Linked DNA regions of Homo sapiens: regions 1 and 3 are each linked to region 2. The links come from fine-mapping of genetic effects on gene expression. A gene starts in region 2. Each other region holds a variant in brackets. All regions are shown on one strand. Distances are from middle to middle.

Region 1 (8,664 bases), 98 kb before region 2:
TAAGGGTGAGTCCAACAAAAAAATATCACAATCCTAAATATATATGTACCTAATACTGGAGCTCCCAAATTTATAAAACAATTACTACTAGACCCAAGAAATGAGATAGACAGCAACACAAAAATAATGGGGGACTTCAGTACTCCACTGACAGCACTAGACAGGTCATCAAGATAGAAGTCAACAAAGAAACAATGAACTTAAAGTATACCTCAGAATGGACTTAACTGATATTTATAGAACATTCTATCCAATAATGCAGACTATACATACATTCATCAGCACGTTTTTTTATCAGCACATGGAACATTCTCCAAGATAGACCGTATGATAGGCCACAAAACAAGTCCCAGTAAATTTAAGAAAATCAAAATTATATCAAGTATCTTTTCAGACTACAGTGGAATAAAACTGGAAATTAACTCCAAAAAGAGCACTCAAAACTATACAAATACATGGAAATTAAATAATCTGCTCTTGAATGATCTTTGGGCCAACAATGAAATCAAGATGGAAATTTAAAAATTATTCGAACTGAAAAATATTAGTGCCACAACTTTATCAAAACCTCTAGGATACAGCAAAAGCAATGCTAAGAGGAAAGTTCATAGCCCTAAATGCCAACATCAAAAAGTCTGAACGAGCACAAATAGACAATTAAAGTCACACCTCAGGGAACTAGAGAAACAAGAACAAACCAAACCCAAGCCTAGCAGAAGAAAAGAAACACCAAAAATTGGAGCAGAAGTAAATAAAATTGAAACAACAACAAAAACAAACATAAATGCAACAAAAGCTATTTTTTTGAAAAGATAAACATCGATAGACCATTAGCGAGATTAACCAAGAAAAGAAGATCCAAATAGGCTCAATTAGAAATGAAACAGGAGACATTACAACCGATATCACAGAAATACAAAAGATCATTCAAGGCTACTATTAACATCTTTATGCACACAGACTAGAACATCTAGAGGAGATGGATAAATTCCTGGAAATATACGACCCTCCTAGATTAAATCAGGAAGAAACAGAAACTCTGAACAGACCAATAACAAGTAGTGAGATTGAAACAGTAGTAAAATAAATTGCCAACAAAAAAAGTCCAGGAACAGACGGATTCACAGCTGAATTCTATCAGACATTCCAAGAAGAATTGGTACCAATCTTACTGAAACTATTATAAAAGATAGTGAAAGAGGGAATCCTCTCTAAATCACTCTATGAAGCCAGTATCACCCTAATACCAAAACTAGTAAAGGATGTAACAAAAAAAGAAAACTACAGATCAATATCTTTGATGAACACAGATGGAAAAATCCTCAACAAAATACTAGCTAACTGACTCCAACAGCATATCAAAAAGGTAACACACCATGATCAAGCGGGTTTCATACCAGGGATGCAGGGATGGTTTAACATACACAAATCAACAATTGCGATATATCACATAAACAATTAAAAACAAAAATCATATGATCATCTCAATAGATGCAGAAAAGCATTTGACAAAATCCAGTATCCTTTTATGATTAAAACCCTCAGCAAGATTGACACAGAAGGGACATACCTCAAGGTAATAATGACAATCTATGACAGACCCACAGCCAACATTATACTGAATGGGGAAAAGTTGAAAGTATTTCCCCTGAGAACTAGAACAAGGTAAGAATGCCCACTTTCATCACTACTATTCAATATAGTACTGGAAGTCTAGCCAGAGCAATCTGACAAGAGAAAGAAATAAAGGGCATCCAAGGCAGTAAAGAGGAATTCAAACTGTTGCTGTTTAACGATGATATGATCATGTACCTTGAAAACCCTAAAGACTCATCCAAAAAGCTCCTAGATCTGATAATGAATTCAGTAAAATCTCAGGATACAAAATCAATTGCACAAACCAGTAGTTCTGCTGTACACCAACAATGACCAAGCTGAGAATCAAATCAAGAACTGAATCCCTTTTATGACAGCTGCAAAACAAACAAACCCCCAAAACTTAGGAATATACCTAACCAAGGAGGTAAAAGATCTCTATAAGGAAAACTACAAAACAATGCTGAAAGAAATCATGGATGACACAAACAAATGGAAACACATTTCATGCTCACGGATGGGTAGAATCAATATTGGGAAAATGACCATACTGCCAAAAGCAATCTACAGATTCAATGCAATTCCCATCAAAATACCACCATCATTCTTCACAGAACTAGTAAAAACAATCCTAAAATTCATACGGATCCATAAAAAGAGCTCACATAGCCAATGCAACACTAAGGAAAAAGAACAAATCTGGAGGAATCACATTACCCAACTTCAAACTAGGCTATAGTTACCAAAACAGCAAGATCGTGGTAGAAAAATAGGCACACAGACCAGTGGAACAGAATAGAGAAACCCAGAAATAAAGCCAGATACTTACAGCCAACTGTTCTTAAACAAAGCAAACAAAAACATAAAGTAGGGAAAGGACACCCTATTCAACAAATGGTGCTGGGATGATTGGCAAGTCACATGTAGAAGAATGAGACTGGATCCCCATCTCTCACTTCATACAAAAATCAACTCAAGATGGATCAAAGACTTAAATCTAGGACCTGACACCATAAAAATTCTAGAAGATAACATCAGAAAAACTCTTCTAGACATTGGCTTAGGCAAAGAGTTCATGACCAAGAACCCAAAAGCGAATGTAACAAAGAAAAAATAAATAGATGGGACCTAATTAAACTAAAAAGCTTCTGCACAGCAAAAGAAATAATCAGAGTAAACAGACAACCCACAGAGTAGGAGAAAATATTCACAAACTATGTATCCAACAAAGGACTAATAACCAGATTTACAACAAATTCAAACAAATTAGCAAGAAAAAAATTCCATCAAAAAGTGGGCAAAGGACATGAATAGAAAATTCTCAAAAGAAGATACATGAATAGCCAATAAACATGAAAAAATCCCCAACATCACTGATTGTCAGGGAAATACAAATTAAAACCACAATGAGATACCACCTCACTCCTGCAAGAATGGCCATAATTAAAAAAAAAAAATAGATGTTGATGTGGATGTTGTGAAAGGGAACTTTTACACTGCTGGTGTGAATGTAAACTAGTACAACTACTATGGAAAACAGTATGGAGATTCCTTAATAAACTAAAACTACCATTTGATCTAGCAGTCCTACTACCGGGTATCTGCCCAGAGGAAAAGAAGTCATTATATGAAAAAGACACTTGCACACGCATGTTTATAGCAACACAATTTGCAATTACAAAAATATGGAACCAGCCTAAATGCCCATCAACCAACATGTTGATAAGGAAAATGTGGTATATTTATACCATGGAATACTACTCAGCCATAAAAAGGAATAAAATAATGGCATTTGCAACAAACTGGATGGAGCTTGAGACCATTTTTGTAAGTGAAGTAACTCAGGAATGGAAAACCAAGTATCGTATATCTTCACTTACAAGTGGGAACTAAGCTATGAGGATGCAAAGGCATAAGAATGACATAATGGATTTTGGGGACTCAGGGAAGGATAGTAGGGGAGTGAGGTATAAAAAACTACACATCGGGTACACTGTACACTGCTCACGTGGGAAGTGCACCAAAATTTCAGAAATCACCACCACATAACTTATCCATGTGACCCAAACCATCTGTTCCCTAAAATCTATTGAAAAAAAAAGTGTTAGTAATCACACTTGTAATCGCAGCACTTTGGGATACTGAGGCAGGAGCATCGCTCAAGGTGAGGAGTTTGACACTGGCTTGGGCAATATAGTAAGACCCCTGGCTCCCTGTGTATATATTTTAAAAAACAAAAGTAAGCATGGTACTTGCAAAACAAACAAACAAAAACACCAAGTACATATGAAACAGAATAGAGAGCCCATAAATGAACCCAGGTATACACATGGTCAATTGCTTTTCCACAAAGGTGCCAAGAATATACAATGGGAAAAGAATAGTCTCTTCAATAAATGGTGCTAGGAAAACTAGATACCCACATGCAGAATGAAATTGGACCTTCATCTTACCTATATGCAAAAATCAACTCAAAATAGATTAAGGACTTAAATGTAAGACCAGAAACTGTAACACTACTAAAGGAAACATAATGGAAAAACTGCCAATTGAAACCACAGTATGATGTCATCTTACACCTGTCACAATGGCTATCATAACAAAAACAAAAGATAACAAATGTTGGCAAGGATGTGGAGAAAAGGGAATCAGTATACACTGTTAAGAATGTAAATTAGTACAGCCATTAAGGAAAACTGAAGTTCTTCAAAAAACTAAAATAGAATTACCATATGATCCAGCAATCCCACTTCTGAGAATTCAACCCAAAGATTTGAAATCAGTGTGTCGAAGAGATTTGAAATCAGTGTGTCGAAGAGATGTTTGCAGCCCTGTGTTCACTGTAGCACTAAATTTACAATAACCAAGTTATGGAATCAACCTAATGTCTATCAGCAGATGAATGGCTAAAGAAAATGTGGAAAATGGGGTATATATACACAATGGAATACTATTCAGCCTTTAAAAAAGACATTCTG[T/C]CATTTGTGACAACATGGATGAAACTGAAGAACATTATGCTAAGTGAAGTAAATCAGACACAGAAAGACAAATATGGCACATACTTACTTATATATGGAATCTAAAACAAACTCACAGAATCAGAGTGTAGAATGACGGTTACAAAGGCTCAGGGCTGAGAGGAATGGGGAGATGATGGTCAAAGGGTGTAAAATATGGCAGAAGGAATTTTTTAGTTCTACTGCACAGCATGGTAAATATAGTTAATAACAGCATTATACATTTCAAAACTAAATTTCCATGTTCTCATCACAAAAAATGTTAAGTGTTTGAGGTGATGGATGTTAACTAGCTTAATTATTCCATTATACTCATAAATCATAACACCATTTTGTACCCCCACGTACAATTATAAATTGTCAATTTACAGTTAAAAAAAATGCAGGAGGCATTTTGTGGAGGGAAAGACTAAACCCCAGAGTAGCAAAGCAACTAATTCATGGTCCCCCCGGGTTTAAGACAGAGCCATGAGCCTTGTCCAGGTGTGGGTCCCTACAGGATTCCCATCATGCTTTGAAGCTCGACTTGAGCCCAGGTGATAATGGCAGGCTCTGCAGGATCTGGAAGCCAGTACAGACTTTCCTCAGCACATTTGAGAGCAGGATGTAGGGCTCATAATTTATAATCATACTTGTGTGTATATGTGCTTCTGTGTATATATTAGCCCTTGGTAATGACATGTCAAGGGCTTTTTTTTTTCTTTGCCTAAACACAGTGTATGCTGCAGAAAACAAAGTGCTATAGTAATTCAGTGAACAGAAAATTCTACAGGCAAATAAGGTGGGAAACACTGCATATTATATCCAACATTCTTGGTGCACCAGGAAACACGTTTGCATATTAAGGACTGAACGGTCCCATAATAAAGAGACACCTTTAGGTTAGTTTAATCCAGTGATTCCCAGATTTATTTGGTTATGACCATCTATCCCCCCAGTAGTCCTCACCAATATTCTGTGGAACAAATCTGTTTATTTGCAGAACACAATTTTGAAAAGGGTTATTCTGAATGTCTATGAAGTGTTTTAAATATGGTACATTTTAATGAGGTTATATACCAAAATAGCCTAAACACCAACAATGACAGAAACATCCAGGATACAACTTGTGAAAGTAAAAATTTTTATTTTGATTGATTTCTCAATGTATAGTTCAGTATAATGCCAGTTTTTAATGGCAAAAATTTGGTTCCACTGAAACTCCATAATGCTACAGAGAGCTACTACTTTTTCCAGGAAGTAGGTTAACAGCTAGAAAGAAAAAGGACAATTTCCTAGCAGCATGGCAACTTAAACTGCAGATCTAATAGGTCTGCAACTTTTACACTAAAAATGGCACAAACAGCTGGTGACACAAGTGAGAAATGGGGAACAAGATGTGAACACTGAAAAGAACAATATATATACTGTAAATATGATGAATAAACCAAATGTAGCTATAAGAATCTTAAAGGATGATTATAGAAAAGGGAACCAAATATTTTCCTCAAATGCTTTTTAGAGCCTTTCTGTAGAGATACAAATATATATATATATATTTATCCAAAAATATGTTTTATACAGATAAATGTTTCTCAATTAAAGATGGGACCAAAGCTATAGGTATAACATAAAGCACATTGTCTTTTGTAAGACTATTTATCCACCTGAATTTTCAATTTCTTTAAAGTTAGTGCATTAAATGTTTTCCAAATATAATTACCTGTCAGTCTTTTTATAGATATAAATCAAGTAGGCATTATGTTTTAAAAGTGTTTGCAGGTTAAACTTTTCTAAGATGCTGTGCATATTAAACTTATTATGAGCCCCATTAAGAATCATTATTAATAAACATATCAAAAAGGGCTATATGTCAGATTTTCCTGTTCATAGTAAATATTTTCTGATTTCCAGTTTACAAGTATTGAAAATGCACAAGAAAGATTTTACTTCACAAGTACTTTTAAGAATATACTTTGATTTAATATGTATGTTAGTAAAACTCCACGTGTTGTAACGATTATTATGTTTTTGTTTTTAAAATGGGGATGTAATACTAATAACCACTACCTATAAAATAAAGCACACAATTGTTCCGGTGATTTTACAAATCTTTTTTTCCAGGTGTAAAGTCTACAAAAATTCCAAAAAATTAGAGAACACTGAAAACATATTAAAGTTTGACATCCAACTTTATAGTATTTCCATGTTACCCTGAAAGATAACTTAAAAAATATGGCCTTCTTAGAACAGGCCACTCTGCTATTATAAAAAATTGGTGACAGCAAGAAATTGTATCACTGATATGTGGAATTTTTGTAAATAGTTTTCTCTCCAAATCATTAGAAAAATGTTCAAAAATAAAAACAAAATAAAATATGGTGGTGGTCCCTAAACTATTTTGAAGGCAGGTAGCTTAGTCTAAGCTAAAATATTTTTTTCATTCATAGCAATAATCCTCCCCTCAAATGCCCTTTAAAAAAATGCATGAAACCGTACAATAGCAAAAATCAAAGAGCACAGACTGTATTTTCAAGAACAGAAAAATCTCTAATGCTGAAAGATATAGTAGAAAGCAGATTTCTTTGGGGACATTAATCAATTAGTTTATAATTCATTATGAAGATTTCTCTTTTTTATTCCGGGGAGAGTCTGCTACATTTGAAGTTAATGTTCCATTCACACCATTTTCTGCAAAAAGAAAAGAATCCATGTTACTCTCTTTTATAAATAAATGCAAGTTATAATCTTTATATGTAAAGATACCTTCAGAAAAGAAAATGTAAAATCCAATTCACTCAGGTGAAATTTACTTACCAGTATTTAACCAATCACAAAACCTGGTAACATTTTTAACACAATGAACTGAAAGTAGCAAATTAAAAGAAAACTACTATTAAAAGCAGAAAAAAGTGACAGCACAGAAAACTATAAAGTCACAAGAATTTAAAAATAGTATTCAAGAGAAATACCTTCTGTAGAAATAAAGAAACTTTTCACATTTGACAGCGAAGTCCTTGGGGATATTTGTTTACAATATAGTAAAGTTGGTGTTTAGGATAATTTCTATGTGGAGGCGTGTATTATGGCCTTCTTTTTATTTATTTATGTTACTGTTGTTTTTTGAGACAGGGTCTCACTCTGTCACCAAGGCTGTGTAGTGGCACGATCATGGCTCAATGCAGTCTTGAACTCCCGGGGACCAGTGATGCTCCCGGGGACCTCAGCCTCCCAAATAGCTGGGACTACAGGCATGTGCCACCACACCTGGCTAATAGTAATGGCCTTCTTCAAGCTATGATGGAGTAGCGTATGTGTGACTGACTCTCTCTCCAAAAATACAAAAGTTGCATACAGAAATGGATGTTTGAGGCGGGGGCAATGGCTTGCACCTATAATCACAGCACAAGTGGAATCCCAGCACAGATATCATTGAACTGAATAATAATGAAAAAGACATATTGAAACCTGTGAAATACAGACTAAGCATGGTGGCTCACGCCTGTAATCCCAGCACTTTGGGAGGCTGAGGTGGGTGGATCACCTGAGGCCAGGAGTTCAAGACCAGCCTGGCCAACGTGGTGAAATGCCATCTCTACTAAAAATACAAAAATTAGCTGGTTGTGGTGGTGGGTGCCTGTAATCCTGACTACCTGGGAGGCAGGAGAATCACTTGAGCCCGGGAGGCAAAGGTTGCAGTGAGCTGAGATCGCGCCACTGCACTCCAGCGTGGGCAACAGAGCTAGACTCCATCTAAAAAAAAAAGAAAAAAAAAAAAAAACCACACAAAAAAAAACCCCAAAACAAAACAAAAAATCCTTGTGAAATACAGTTAAAGCAGTGTTGAAAGGAAAAGTTTACCATTAACTGAATGTAATTCACAAGAGATACAAATCAATGCTCCAAAGATCCATCTCAAGAAGGTAAATCACAAACAAAACCGCAAATTAAACCCAATGAAAAGGAAAGAATAGAAATCAATGATCCAGAAAAGAGACAACTAGGAAAATCAACACAAAAAGACAAATGTTGGTTTTGACTGATGGAAGGAAAGATAAAAGGCTTACGTTAC
Region 2 (8,664 bases):
CATAGTAGGCACACAATAACTGTTTGCTACATGAATGGAGAAAAAAATTTTTAATTGATGGAAAATTAGTAGAATCAAATTCCTTGTTATAGGTATTTCATGTCAATATTAAGATAGCTATTAACTGGTCTCTATTTGCTGTCACTCTTATAAAATCATTAGATATTTTCTGAACACCTACTATGAGCACAGTGTTATCTAGATGTTATGAGGAAAGCAGAAGTGATAAACATAATGGCTAACATGGTATGTTTTCCACGTGCTAGAACTTGTTAAGTGCTTTTCATATACGTTTTTTCACTTAAATTTCACTGAGCCCTTATAAAATCCAATGAGGTAGGTACTACACAACCTTCATTGGGTTGTATCAGGAATCTGAAGCTTAGAACTGTCTTGTCCAAAGTCATATGGCTAGTAAATGGCACCAGGATTCTAATCGAGGTAACCAGAGTCCAGAGTTTTAATTCTATTCCACTTGACTACCTTTTTCTATTATCAGCCACACTGTCTGCCCACAAAGTATGTACAATTTTGATAGGAAAGGTTAAAATTGCAGTTTTTAAAGGTTCTTGAGCAGAGGAGGAAAGTAAAAACACTGGACAATTTGGCTGTCATTTGTTGATTCAAATGCTTATTGAGTACCTATGTACTAAGCATCACAGTTAGGTCTAGCAGTGTTTTAGTGAAATTCATTTGGCTTCCATGGGCTGATCAGATGAGGAAGGAAGACCAGCTAAAACTGTAGTTATCCAGCAGTTCTGGAGTCATAATAGTGAAAATTAAGAGAAAATGTACAGAATGCTCATTCATTCAGCAACTGTTTACTGTTCTACCTGAACTGTGTACAAGGCTCTGTGCTAGGTGCTGGGGATATAGCCATGAATATGCTTTCACTGAACTGATGTTATAGTGGGGTATGAAGGTGTGGAAAGACACTAAGCTTCTTGCACAAAAAAATCATTTCATTATCATTGAGATAAGGACCATGAAAAGTATGGAGTGTCCCTAATACAGTCTGATGGGTCAGGGAAGACTTCCATGAGGAAATGGTATTTAAACTGTGCTCTAAAGGATGAATGAGATTAGCTGGGTAAAGAAGGGAGGAATGAGTGGAAGAAAGAGGAAAGCATGCGTGAAGGCCCTGAGACAGGGAATCACAAACCTCATCTGAGACACTAGAAGGCCAGCATGGCTGGAGTGGGAGAGGTTTGAGAGGAGCCTGATAAGACTGATGGAGGCCAGAATACACAAGGCCTTCCAGTTTTAATTCCTAAAATACCACTCAGGCTACAAAGGGAAGATTGGATTGAAGAGAGACAGAGGTAGTCGTACAGAAGCCAATTAGGAGGCTATTACAGTAGCCTAAGCAAGAGTTGTGCTGGCTTGGACTGAGTGACAGCAGGGGACATGAACAGATCTTCATAATGGCTTGGATATGCAGTAGGAAGCAAATAAATGTCAGGAAGGGTATTTAGGCATTTCCTTTGATGGCTTTGTTTATCAAGATATGAACAACTGAAGGAGGACCTGGCAGTTTTCTGGAAAGGTTATGAGTTCAGTATGGAAAACACTGAGTTCCAGGCAGCAGTGAGTCATGCAAATAGATTTAAAAGTTGGCTACTTGAGTCTGAAGATCAAGTTTGGAATTTGAACTTGAGCTATATATTTGGTAGTTAATAATAAACAGATAATAAAGGCAAAGCCAAATAAGTAGATGAGATCACCTAGGTAGAGAATACAGTAGAAGAACATGAGAGATGAGGATTATATACTGAATAACTAAAATAATTAAAGATTTGATAAAGAAGATGACTCTATCAAGGTGAAAGAGAAAGAGCAGCTCAAGAGGTAATAGGAAACCTGAAGAATGTGGTGTTGGCAAATTAAGGAGGGAGTCGTCAATGGTGTCAAAGCACTGAAGTTCAAGGAAGATGAGAACAGAAAAATACCATTGGGGTTAGTGATACAAAAGCCGCTTGTGATCTTAGAACTGTTTTGTGAAGCGGAACAGGTGGATACCAATCTCAGAACATCTGACAAGGGGCCAATTAATATTAACTTCTAGCCACCTTTTACTTTACACCTTTTACTTTATACAGTAGCATTATCTACACTTATTTCTAGCTCAACTATACGGACTCTCTAGTTCAACTATATGGAGAAATAATTTACATAGTGCAAGTAATTCCACTGGCCATTCCACTCCATTAATTTATGTGAGCAACAGTGTTAAGTAATTTAAGACGAGAGACTATAAATCTGCTTTTCCCTCAGTTAGTCTTTAAGTCTCTCTTAGCACTAGCACTTTGCTATGTTGAGTGTGATTATAGTGTTTAAAGATACAGTATGTATTTTTCATACAATATAGCCCCTCAACACAAGCCAATTTCTTCACCTGGTTTTCAAACAGAATCAGCCATCTGTTTCAACGCTGGAAAAAAGGCAGGTTGTGCTGAACTTACTGAGACAATACACTGATCTCCAACATGGTGTTCTTCTAAGAGACTTTCCAGGGTAATTCTGATAATATGCATCTTTTGTCTGAGGTATTGACTAGTTCAAGATGACACACTGTAGAGAGACCGCCTATGGATTTACTTGGTTGAGGGACTTCCAGCCAAGACAGACTGTACCCTAGAGATCTGGCATTTTTCCTGCTTAATTCTCTATCCTCCTAGATTCTGGTGGCAGCCTAAACCTTTGGTAACTACCTGACCCTGCCTTATTTACTCTGAACTTAATCTTTTACCTGCCCACTTTGCAGGTCTGCTGCTTCTAAAATTCTTATTTACTGGAAAAACGCCAAACAGTAGACACTTCCAAGGAAAACTCAATTAACTGTACTTACTAAATCGTTTTTAGTAATCAATTATATTTTAAAAATAATTTATGTCTTGACTGCACAATTAAATTCTATGCTCAAGAGAAACTACATTATCTGGGTTCATCCAGTAAAGACTACAAAAGTTGCTAAATGCCTAAGACTTACTATGCAGTAAACCAAATCTCCCATTCCTGCATAATTCCACTAAAACAGAATGCAGCTAAACAAGAGCAAAAGTATCTTCTTAGAAATACAGGTGTGTTACTGTGTCTGCAAATTAAACTCAAACAAGGTCACACACAATTGTAACAAAAAACTTCCCCAAATTACTTATGTCAGCTCCTCTTATGAGCCCACAGGCTGCAGAGAACCAATTTGGAAGCCAGGAGAATCCTGCCCTCTGCTGCTGAGTTGAGGAAATCGCCTCAACATAATTAATCGCTTTTGAGAAGGGAAGTTACACTCTGGGCAAAACACCAGTGAAAGTCAAGTGAGCAAAGTAAACGCTTTCTTGGACTCTTGACATCCGAATTTTCTCAACAGTTTAAACACGCACACCCTGGCATTCAAACATCAAGAACAGTAAATCGGGTTTCAAAACAGAAGTTTTTTTTTTTTTTTTTTTTTTTTTTTCCATTTCTCCCTAAATTAGAGAGCTATCACCTGGGGTGGTCGTATTTTAGCTAGCTTCGAGATCCGAGTGTCTGCGTGCAGTCCCGACGGGGCTGCTAGGCGCGGGGCTGCCCAGCTAGGGACAGGACGCGGCGCTCTCCACTGCCCGCGCAGCCGCGATCAGTCAAAGCCCGGGCTCCGGGGCCGGCTGCGAACGTTGGGGAGGTTGGAGAGGGACGTTTACCTGGGGCCGGTCCCCACTAGGTAGGTGTTGGTGCCTTGGAGGGTCATGGGACCCGGGTTACAGCCCAACACACGCACGACTCGATTGGACAGCCGCTCGACGCGCTGCAGTACAGCAGCCATTCCCGCCTCAGCCGCCCGCCGGCGTGTCGCCTATCTGGATACTCCAGCGCGGAAGAAGCCAACAGGCCGGGGATAGCGAGTAGCGTCCACGTGATGCCTCGCAACCCGGGAGGGAGGGGATTGGCCAGCGGCTGGTCCAGGTGTCATGTGACACCGCGGACGAGCCGGGGCGGGGATCCGGCAGCTAGGCCGGGGGGTGGGGGGGGCGGTGCGGAACTAGAGGTCACGTGACGCCGCGCGGGCTGCGCGGGCAGTGGTGGGAAGGCTGGCGCGAGGCGTGAGGTGGCGTGAGGCGAAGCTGGAATCTGCCTCTGTCACGGGGGCTGGTGCCTCACGGGTTTGTGTCCTAGACAGGCGAGTGGATCCAAGTGGGCGAGAGACATTTTAATCTGGAAGAGTCTTGTGATTTGGGAGACAGGTTTGGTAACCGTTCGTTATTCAGTAATAAATGTCAGGAAGGATTGCCAGATTTTTAGGCAGTGGCTCTGTGTGTGTGTGTGTGTGTGTGTGTGTGTGTGTAGTAGTAGTAGTAGTAGCCTGTTCATTTTTTTTTTTTTTTTTTTTGAGACGAAGTCTCGGTCTGTCGCCCAGGCTGGAGTGCAGTGGCGCGATCTCGGCTCACTGCAAGCCCCGCCTCCCGGGTTCACGCCATCCTCCTGCCTCGGCCTCCCGAGTAGCTGGGACTATAGGCGTCCGCCACCACGCCCGGCTAATTTTTTGTATTTTTAGTAGAGACCGGGTTTCATTGTGTTAGCCAGGAAGGTCTTGATCTCCTGACCTCGTGATCCGCCCGCCTCGGCCTCCCAAAGTGCTGGGATTACAGGCGTGAGCTACCACGCCGGGCCAGCCTGTTCATCTTTTATAATAAATAGTGGTAAGACATATTTACTTAGTACTTCCTACTATGCCTAAGTGCTTTCAACAAACATCCGACTTAACGCCCTTAATCCTCAGAACATTATTAAGAGGTGGACACTATTTTTGTTACAAATGAAAAACGGGGATTGGGCAGCTGCCCAGATGACAGAGTCTGCGTGTGCGGCCTTGCTCCTACCTGCCTCGCACTAACACTTGTCCCCCTCAGTGAGATTCAAGGAGCATGCCTCTGCCTGCCAGTGTTACCTGCCTGCCCAGAGAGCTAGGCTGGTCTTGTGGAGCCGTTTTGTGCCCAAGATGGAAGGGACTCATTTTCTCTGTAACAAGTCGGTTTCTTATCAGCCAAGTATTAACTATCCAGTGTTAACTACAGCTTCCCATAAAAAAAGTTGAGTTATAAATTACTTAAAAGAAAATACACAGATCCTGTAGACAGTTCCATCGAGTTATGACAATTGTATGTAATCACTGCCCCAAAGAGATGTAGAACATATCCACTGTAGCAGCCCACTCTTTTTTTTTTTAAAAAAAGGTGAGAAATTGACACATACAGTGCTTGGTGGCTTTTTTTTTTCCAGATATTTCTGATGAAGAAAACGATCTGCTCTTACCTATTTTATGAATCAGCAGCATAGTGTATCAGAGTGGCTAATGACATCTGCTTTGTGTGTGAGAAATGTCTTTGCCTTGTTTCACACAGTTGTACTTTTAATGGAAAAATATTCAAAAAATCATCGCTGAAATAATCATATAAGTTATCCCCTGTTGCAATGGGAAGTTAAACAGTATACCCTTCAAAAAATACTTAAAGTAACCAAATCTCCTACATCAGGCATTTCAATCTGTCAATATGTATTTATGATAGCCATCAATTAATGGCTATTCAGGCAGGAGGCTTTGCACATCTTCCCTTTTTAAGAACTCTGCTGGAAAGTCAGTGAACCCTGGAGAAGAGGATGGAACAGTAATTTCTGGACCAGATTCCTGAGAATCTGGGCACTCCCCTTCTTTTATTCTTTGGCTTAATTAATTTCCTTACTTAACTTACTTATTTACTTACAGGGTCTGGCTTTCACCCGGGCTGCAGTGCAGTGGCACTATCATAGCTCACTGTAACCTTGAACTCTTGAACTCAAGCGATTCAGGTGATCCTCCTGCTTTGGTCTCCCAAAGTGCTAGGATTGCAGGCTTGAGCCACCATGCCTGGCTGAGATAAACTTTTTAGCTCCCACGTATGAATGAGAATATGTGATATTTGTCTTTCTATGCATGGATTATTTCACTTATCATAATCTCTAGTTCCATCCATGTTGCTGAAAATGACATGATCTCATTTTTTTTTTTTTTTTATTATACTCTAAGTTTTAGGGTACATGTGCACATTGTGCAGGTTAGTTACATATGTATACATGTGCCATGCTGGTGCGCTGCACCCACTAATGTGTCATCTAGCATTAGGTATATCTCCCAATGCTATCCCTCCCCCCTTCCCCGACCCCACCACAGTCCCCAGAGTGTGATATTCCCCTTCCTGTGTCCATGTGATCTCATTGTTCAATTCCCACCTATGAGTGAGAATATGCGGTGTTTGGTTTTTTGTTCTTGCGATAGTTTACTGAGAATGATGGTTTCCAATTTCATCCATGTCCCTACAAAGGATATGAACTCATCATTTTTTATGGCTGCATAGTATTCCATGGTGTATATGTGCCACATTTTCTTAATCCAATCTATCATTGTTGGACATTTGGGTTGGTTCCAAGTCTTTGCTATTGTGAATAGTGCCGCAATAAACATACGTGTGATTGTTTATCTAGAAAACCCCATCGTCTCAGCCCAAAATCTCCTTAAGCTGATAAGCAACTTCAGCAAAGTCTCAGGATACAAAATCAATGTACAAAAATCACAAGCATTCTTATACACCAACAACAGACAAACAGAGAGCCAAATCATGGGTGAACTCCCATTCACAATTGCTTCAAAGAGAATAAAATACCTAGGAATCCAACTTACAAGGGATGTGAAGGACCTCTTCAAGGAGAACTACAAACCACTGCTCAAGGAAATAAAAGAGGAGACAAACAAATGGAAGAACATTCCATGCTCATGGGTAGGAAGAATCAATATCGTGAAAATGGCCATACTGCCCAAGGTAATTTACAGATTCAATGCCATCCCCATCAAGCTACCAATGACTTTCTTCACAGAATTGGAAAAAACTACTTTAAAGTTCATATGGAACCAAAAAAGAGCCCGCATTGCCAAGTCAATCCTAAGCCAAAAGAACAAAGCTGGAGGCATCACACTACCTGACTTCAAACTATACTACAAGGCTACAGTAACCAAAACAGCATGGTACTGGTACCAAAACAGAGATATAGATCAATGGAACAGAACAGAGCCCTCAGAAATATGATCTCATTTTTTTATGGCCAAATAGTATTTTATTGTGTGTATATATCACATTTTCTTTATCCATTTGTTTGTTGATGGACTTTTAGGTTGATTTCATATCTTTCCTATTGTGAATAATGTTGTGATAAACATGCAGGTGCAGTTGTCCCTTTGATATACAAATAGTAGTGGGATTGCTAAATCATATGGTAGTTCTGTGTGTGTGTGTGTGTGTATTTTATACATCTCTGTACTGTTTTCCATAGCGGTTGTACTAATTTACATTCCCACCAACTGTGTATGAGAGTTCCTTTTTCTCTACATCCTCTGCAGCATCTGTTATTGTCTTTTTAATAACAGCTATTCTAACTGGGGTAAGATGATATCTCATTATGGTTTTGATTTGCATTTGCCTGATGATTAGTGATGTTGAGCATTTTTTCATATGTTTGTTGGCCATTTGTATGTCTTCTTTTGAGAATCGTCTATTCATGTTCTGTACCCTCTTTTTGGTGGGATTATTTGTGTTTTCTCTTGTTGAGTTTGAGTTCCTTGTATGTTCTGGATATTAGTCCCTTGTCAGATGAATAGTTTGCAAATATTTTCTTCTGTTCAGCAGATGTCTCTGCACCCTGTTGATTGTTTCCTTTGCTGTGCAGAAACTTTTTCATTTAATATAGTCAAATTTGTCTGTTTTTATTTTAGTCGTATGTGCTTTTGAGGTCTTAGCTACAAAATCTTTGCCTAAACCAATGTCCTTATGTATTTTACCAATATTTTCTTCTAGTAGTTTTATAGTTTAAGGTCTTACGTTTAATCCTTCTTGAGTTGGCTTTTGCATATGATGAGAGACAAGGTCCAGCTTCATTAGCTTTTTTTAAAAATTAAACTTTCACTTGCACTTTCCTTCTGGATTCCATTTAATCAATTGCCAAGCTCCTCATTTGGCAGATGAAGGAATAGGCCAAATGATTTAAAAGTAAGGCAACTTGCATAGGGCCATACAAGGAGATACTAGAAAAAGAGTACAAATAGAAGGTAGATAGTGACTATGTTTTAGATGAGATAAAATTGAGGTAATTGTGGTATATCCAGGTAAAGAAACCTATGGACAGTTAGATATATTTTTTGGTCGGGTGTGGTGGCTCACGCCTGTAATCCCAGCACTTTGGGAGACTAGCCTGACCAACATGGTGAAACCCTGTCTCTACTAAAAATACAAAAATTAGGTGGGCATGGTGGCGGGTGCCTGTAATCCCAGCTACTTGGGAGGCCGAGGCAGGAGAATCACTTGAACCCAGGAGGCGGAGGTTGCAGTGAGCTGAGATCGCGGCACTGCACTCCAGCCTGAGTGACAGAGTGAGACTCCATGTCAAAAAAAAAAAAGATACAAAATTAAGTCTTTGTGAATATGTTTAGAAATGTGACTTGAAGTTTAAGTTCCTCTCCAAGAAATCAGATCAAATATTTTTCACGTTCTGTTCAGTTACACTTACAATAGTTTATTATCTACTTACAACATGCAAGGTAATGTTGTAGACATATTGAGGGCATGTTAAAAATGAATAAGATAATCTTTGCTTTCTAGAGGG
Region 3 (7,002 bases), 110 kb before region 2:
TCTTCTAATTCTTGCTTGTAACCTTTGTATTGAGTGAATTGGGTTTGACAGGGTTGGATCAAAGCCACTTTAGTTTCATTGTCCCTCCCAACCTACTCTATGGGCTACATCTTTTCCTTCCTGAGGATATAATCTCAGGCAGGTCCCTATAGCTTGCAAGGACAGTTGTAGGCCATACAAAGTCACTTTCAATGGCAAGAACTGACTTATATTAGTAACTGAGGCATGACCAGTGAAATGATCAAAACTCCTGGGTCGGGGGCACAGGCTGTGGCAGTCTCCAGATGCAGCAGCTGCTGCACTCTTCATGGGTCCGCCCTGCCAGGCAGTAGGAGGAAAGGGCACCCTGTCTGGGGTCCTCTTTTCTCAGGTGCCCTGTTGCGGGCATTCCCAAGCTGTAGGCCTATATGAGCACATCCAGCCATTGGGGATTCATCACCCCCTCTCCTGTGTGGCAGATTTGTGTGAAACTCTGTCCTCAAAACTCATGCCTGCAGCAATGCCTGAAAGGTCCTGGCTCAGCTCCCAGTGAGGAGGAAGCAGTCCCTCCCCATCCCAGTGAGGGAAGTGCTGGGCATGTCCCAGTACCCCAGCGACCCTCCCCACACTTTTCCCATCCAGGTCTTCTACAGGCCAGAGTTGGTGTTTGTCAGTGCCAGGAAAACACTCACAGTCTCTTCCCATGTGCTCGGAGGAGTCCAGCATCTGCTGCCCACGGGGGACCAGACCAGACAAAGATCCACCCCAACCCCCAATCCTCTTGACCTTAGGTGCATGAGAAAAATGCGTGAAAGTGAGGCAGAGGGAACCCCTTGGTGACACCTGTTGCTCTTTTTCACTGAGGGCACCCATGGCTTTCTAGGAAACAGATTTGATGAACTTTTTTTAGGCTTTGTATTTTTTCTTCTTTGAAACTTTTGGCACTGCCAACCATTCATTCCCTGAAGTCCTCTTGCTTAGTTTCTGTGACTTCTATTTTTTTTTTTAATGATTTGAGACAGAGTCTCACTCTTGTTGCCCAGGCTGGAGTGCAGTGGTGTGATCCCAGCTCACTAAAACCTCCACCTCCCGGGTTCAAGCATTTCTCCTGCCTCAGCCTCCTAAGTAGCTGAGATTATAGGCGCCTGCCACCACACCCGGCTAATTTTTGTAGTTTTAGTGGAGACGGGGTTTTGCCATGTTGGCCAGGCTGGTCTCAAACTCCTCATCTCAGGTTATCCATGTTGGGATTACAGGCGTGAGCCACCATGTTCGACCTCTTTGTGCATCTTCTTTTTTTTTTTTTTTTTTTTTTGAGATGGAGTCTCGCTTTGTCACCTAGGCTGGAGTGCAGTGGCTCAATCTTGGCTCACTGCAAGTTCCACCACCCAGGATCAAGTGATTCTCCTGTCTCAGCCTCCTGAGTAGCTGGGATTACAGGCACCCACTACCATGCCTGGCTAATTTTTGCATTTTTAGTAGAGACAGGGTTTCACCATGTTGGCCAGGCTGGTCTTGAACTCCTGACCTCAGGTGATCCACCCACTTCGGCCTCCTAAAGTGCTGGGATTACAGGTGTGAGCCACCACGCCAGGACTTTGTACATCTTCTAAGCAGTCTTGTCCTTGTTTTGCCAGACTGTGTGGTAGGACACAGTGAAGAACAGAGGCTCCACCACAGACATGTGCAAAACCTGGCTTTGCCACTTACTAAGTCACTTGACCCCTCTGAGATTCAATTTCTATAAAACAGTGTTAATAGGATGATCCCCAACTATTCAAGGTATCCTTGTGGAGTTTATAAATGATGGGGGTAAAGCACATAAAATACCAACTGGGACTTATCCATCGATAAATATTAGCAATATATACTGAATTTCATGCAATCTAAGAATTCGTCAGTGTCTTAGTCTACTTTGTGAAGCTATAACAGAATACCACAGGCTGGATGATTTATAATAGACAGAAATGTATTGGCTTATGGTTCTGGAGGCTAGGAAGTCCAAAACTGAAGGTCCAGCATCTGGCAGGGGCATTCTTGCTGTATAACTCCATGGCATAAAGGCAAAGAGAGGGAGAGAGAGAGAGAGACAGAGAGAGGGAGAGAAAAATAGAGGTGTTTAACTTGTCTTTTTATTTATTTATTTATTTATTTGTTTATTTATTTATTTTGAGACAGGGTCTCACTTTGTCACCCAGGCTGGAGTGCAGTGGCACAACCATGGCTCACCGAAGCCTCAACTTCCTGGGCTCAAGTCATCCTCCTGCCTCAGCCTCCTGAGTAGCTGGGACCACAAGCATGTGCCACCATGCCCTACTAATGTTTTTAATCTGTTGTAGAGGTGGGGTTTCACCATATTGCCCAGGCTAGTCTTGAACTCTGGGGCTCAAGCAGTCCTCCCACCTTGGCCTCCCAAAGTGCTGGGATTACAGGCATGAGCCACCATGCCTGACCTAACTTGTCCTTTCATCAGAAACCCACTCCCATATTAACATTAATCTATTTATATGGGCAGAGTCTTCATGGCCTAATCACCTCTTAAAGATCCCACCTCTAAATACTATTACAAAGGAAATTAAATTCCAACATGAGTTTAGGAAGAGACAAACATTTAAACCCTAACAATCAGGTTAAAAAAAAAAGTCTTTATGCTGTAGGCCACTAAGAGAAATTTGCTACTGAAAGACCCATTTTTATTTCAGAAATGCTAAAGTATGAAGAGAGCACATTTAGAAAAAAGAAAATACAGTATCCTTGTAGCAATGGTCTGAATGTTTATATCACCATGCCCCCCAAATATATATGTTGAAATCCTACCCCCACGAGGTGATGATGGTGTTAGGAGTGGGACCTTTGAGAGGTGATTAGGTCATGAAGGCTCTGATCTCATGATTGGGATTAGTGTTTTTATAAAAGAGGTCCAGAGAGCTGCCTTGTCCTTTCTGCCATGTCCTTGCTGTCACAGCAAGAATGCACCATTTATAGCCAGGCGTAGTGATGTGCGCCTGTAGGTCCAGCTCCTCAGGAGGCTGAGGTGGGAGGATCGCTTGAACCTGGGAGGTGGAGGTTGCAGTAAGCCTTGATCATACCACTGCACCCCCGCCTGGGGGACAGAGTGAGATCCTGCCTCAAAATAAATAAGATTGTGGAAGATAAAGACTGGGCTGTGGGAGGTTATTGTGGGGACTCTGAGGTAGGAGAGGTCCTGTGCTATATATAATACTAGGATGTATGAAAGGCAAGCATCCTTTCCCCATTTCGTTCATTTCAAAAGCAAGGTGCTGAACCCTGCTGCATGCAGGGGAAGATGAAGAGACACTGTAATTAATGTGAACCATCCTCTCAGGAACAGACATTTGCAGAACTGAAGGGGAGTCAGAGCATTTCCGGATAGGAACTCATTAAAACTAAGCTTCTCTGAAATGAGAATCACTAAGTACAAAACATCCCATGCAACTGATAACTTCTGTTTTTTTAGGCAATTAAAAATATCAAGAAGAAATTAATTTCTAATACTTTTATTGATCCAATACTTTTAAGACCAAACTTTCATATAAATGAGCAAAGTTCTGGACCCACTTTTAACTTGTTCCCCCACTTTGGCCATTCCGTCAGAGCAAACCATAGCAGTGTGGGGGTCTCCTCTTTGGAACTGGAAATTGTGGTATGTAAGAACACAATTTTAGATGGAAGGGCAAATACTGCATAAGGATCAGCTGACATAAAGATCAGCTGAAGTAACCAACTGAAAAAAAAAATCACAGGGCAAAAGTGTTTCTTTTAGTAGAGAAGTGGGGACATTAGAAAAAAAAAGAAAAGGAACAAATAAGAGCAGCTGGGTTGATGAGTATAACGAATACAGCTGCTCTTACCTTTGGAGACTAAA[G/A]TGCTGACATGAATGGAGTGTGAGTGGAAAATTAGGCTGGTGATTGCAGTAGCCCCTACTGAGTATTTACTCCACAGCAATATATAATGGGGTATGATTGGCATTGCCTATTAAGAGATGCCGGACTGTAATCGGAATGTTGATACTCATCAAAATACAGTAAAACAAGGAGAGCAGTGATTACTTAAACCTGAAGTTACAAGATGGCATTGCTTTTTAAAGTTCTTTATTCTGGCCTGGCGCAGGGGCTCAAATCTGTAATCCCAGCACTTTGGGAGGCAGAGGCAGGAGGATCACTTGAGTCCAGAAGTTCGAGACTAGCTTGGGCAACATAGGGACATCTGCAAATTATTTATATCTCTACAGATAGTTAAAAAATCAGCCAGGTGTGGTGGTGTGCACCTGTGGTCACAGCTACTTGGAAGGCTGAGCCAAGAGGATCACCTATGCCCAGGAGGTTGAGACTGCAGTGAGCTGTGATCACACCACTGCACTCCAGCCTGGGAAACAGAGCGAGACCTGGTCTCAAAACAAACAAACAAACAAAAATTCCTTATTCTGTTTGATCCTTCATAAAAACAAATTAAAAAAAAACCCCGCCACCACAGGTCATGCAAAATTAAGTTGCTATATAATAGCAGAATAAGCCTGAGCTTACTGTATAAAGGCCAATATTTAGAGATGTTTTGTAAATTTCAATGAAAATCACTGCAGAGTATTATCTCTTCAGAAAGAGATTTCTTTTTGCTAACAATTATCTGTCCTTCTCCATCTCATTCCTTCGAACCAGTATTTCTGCACTGAGACAGAGTTGACTCACCATATCAACAAAGAAATGACTTCTAGGTTTCAACTAGGGCTTTCTGTTCCCAGAGAATGATTGATGATTCTGCAGTTATGGAATTTCTCTTTGAAGATGAAGCTGAACCCAGCCTCACATCTCTTTTGAATTTTTTAAAGCTTCCTACATGTATTAGGGTGTAGGTAAGCCACTGATATAGTTTCGGTATTTGTCCCCTCCAAATCTTATGTTGAAATGTGATCTCCAATGTTGAAGGTGGGGCCTACTGGGAGGTGTTTGAGTCATGGGGGTGGATCCCTTGTGAATGACTTTGTGCCCTCCCCAAAGTAATGAGTTTGTGTGAGATGTGGTTGTTATAGAGACTGGAACTTTCCTCCTCTTTCTCTTGTTCCCCTTCTAACCATGTGACACATCTACTTCCCCTTCACCTTCCACCAGGAGTAAAAGCTTCCTGAGGCCTTATGAGAAGCTGAGCAGATGATGATGCTATGTTTCTTGTACAGCCTGCAGAACCATTAGCCAATAAACCTGTTATCTTTAAAAATTACCTAGCCCCAGGGGTTCCTTTATAGCAATGCAAAACAAATGGATACAACCACCAATCATTGTAACATATTCCTGGTAGTCTTCAAGGCCTTAATTCTACAGAATTGAATTTACTTCTTAAAAACCATACTTAATTTTTCATTTACTTAGTATATACAGTATAGATATTTTCCCTTCAGACCTAAGTGACAAATAACCGGTGTCACATTGTTTGTATGTTGTCATTCCTTTGAAATGGAAAAGGACCACTATAGGTGATCCTGAGGTCACTAGTGACTTAGATGAGGTTGATTAAATTGCATTGATAATTAAATTATAGGCCAAGTGCTGTGACTCACACCTGTAATTCCAGCACTTTGGGAGGCTGAGGCAGGTGGATTGCTTGAGCGCAGGAGTTTGAGACCAGCCTGGGCAACGTGGTGAAACCCCCATCTTTATAAAAAATACAAAAATTAGCTGGGCGTAATGGTGTGCACCTGTAGTCCCAGCTACTCTGGAGGCCGATGTGAAAGGGTTGCTTGAACCCAGGAGGTGGTGGTTGCAGTGTGCTGAGATGGCGCCACTGCACTCCAGCCTGAGCGACAGAGCTAGGTAAATTATAATTGTTCTCATAAGTAACTTTACTGTGTTTTCTTTTTTTTGTTGTTGAGATGGAGTTTCGCTCTTGTTGCCCAGGCTGGAGTGCAATGGCACAATCTTGGCTCACCACAACCTCTACCTCCCGGATTCAAGCGATTCTCCTGCCTCAGTCTCCTGAGTAGCTGGGATTATAGGCATGCGCCACCAAGCCCGGCTAATTTTTTATTTTTGGTAGATACGGGGTTTCTCCATGTTGGTCAGGCTGGTCTCAAACTCCCAACCCCAGGTGATCCACCTGCCTCGGCCTCCCAAAGTGCTGGGATTACAGGCGTGAGCCACCGTGCCTGGCCGTATTTTCTTATATTTGATATAAGAAGAGAAAAGGATTAGTTCAGAAGGCAATCAGCAAGGACACAACAGAGTATGTACCTTAGTCTTCAGATTTCACTCTTTCACACATGACCCACACTTACATGTGGATGCCCCATGTACTGTCACATCCAGGCCTTCCAGCCCACTTGGAGAAATGTGAATTCTAGGACATTTTATGATATCAGTTCAAACTTCATGATAAACATTGTGTTGTAACGTTCTCATTTACCTAATGAAGTTTGATTCTTTACACTGGAAGGTTAGGCAACTCCAAGCAGCCAAAAATTCTCTAGAAGTTATATACATCAGCTAAATGGAAATATGGCCCCATAAACCATAGATATCTGACTTTAAAAAGTCATTCCTTAGAAACCATACCTACAACTCGCTTTTATAATTATTATATCACATAGGTATAAATGATTCAGCACAGACTTGGATGTTTGATTTATGAATGTTTGTGTTGGTGAAGCATGCCTGCACAGTCATCCAATGATTCAGTGTAACTTTGCTGGCTGTAATGTTGGCTTGAACATTTCTTGCAACTTTATTGGCCCATCTGCTCCAGAGTAGAGTCGTGGAACACTGTGCTTGCATTGCATGGCATGAATGCTGAACAGTGTTGTGAAACTTCAACATAAAACAGAAAAGTGGTAACAGCAGTGACAATTACTGCTGTGTTTGTCACAACCTTATGAGCTAGCAACTAACATTTAATAAACATCAGGCATAGGGCTATGCACAGTTCATGTTCATATCTTGTGGAGTAGGTGTTATTACCACAGAAAACTGTGGTACAGACATTTAATCACACAGAGCTGATCAGTGGAGGAGTCAC

Alleles and levels. Positions count from the first base shown, and alleles are read on the strand shown. Sizes are in standard deviations (SD) of each study's normalised expression. Not every link is listed here.
As copies of C replace T in region 1, the expression in monocytes of the gene that starts at base 3,867 in region 2 goes up (large effect, 1.2 SD a copy in Fairfax 2014).

The links. PIP is the estimated chance that this variant, and not a neighbour inherited with it, causes the effect. A credible set is the group of variants that fine-mapping cannot tell apart.
Region 1: its variant is the best candidate, but not a certain one, in a credible set for the expression of LACTB2 in monocytes (Fairfax 2014, PIP 0.86).
Region 3: its variant is the best candidate, but not a certain one, in a credible set for the expression of LACTB2 in whole blood (INTERVAL, PIP 0.81).

Annotation. Positions count from the first base shown.
Region 1 is chr8:70,567,723-70,576,386 of GRCh38, forward strand. It overlaps TRAM1 (translocation associated membrane protein 1), which reads right to left. Exons shown (of 11, transcript NM_014294.6): 11 at 5,496-7,283. The coding sequence ends at 7,210. Among named protein-coding and RNA genes, the nearest start is that of TRAM1, 36 kb to the right of the region's middle. The variant T/C (reference allele first, on the strand shown) is at 4,575.
Region 2 is chr8:70,665,319-70,673,982 of GRCh38, forward strand. It overlaps LACTB2 (lactamase beta 2), which reads right to left and starts at 3,867. Exons shown (of 7, transcript NM_016027.3): 1 at 3,681-3,867. The coding sequence starts at 3,802. XKR9 (XK related 9) reads left to right here and starts at 4,021. Exons shown (of 5, transcript NM_001011720.2): 1 at 4,021-4,220.
Region 3 is chr8:70,552,569-70,559,570 of GRCh38, forward strand. No RefSeq gene overlaps it. Among named protein-coding and RNA genes, the nearest start is that of TRAM1, 52 kb to the right of the region's middle. The variant G/A (reference allele first, on the strand shown) is at 3,866.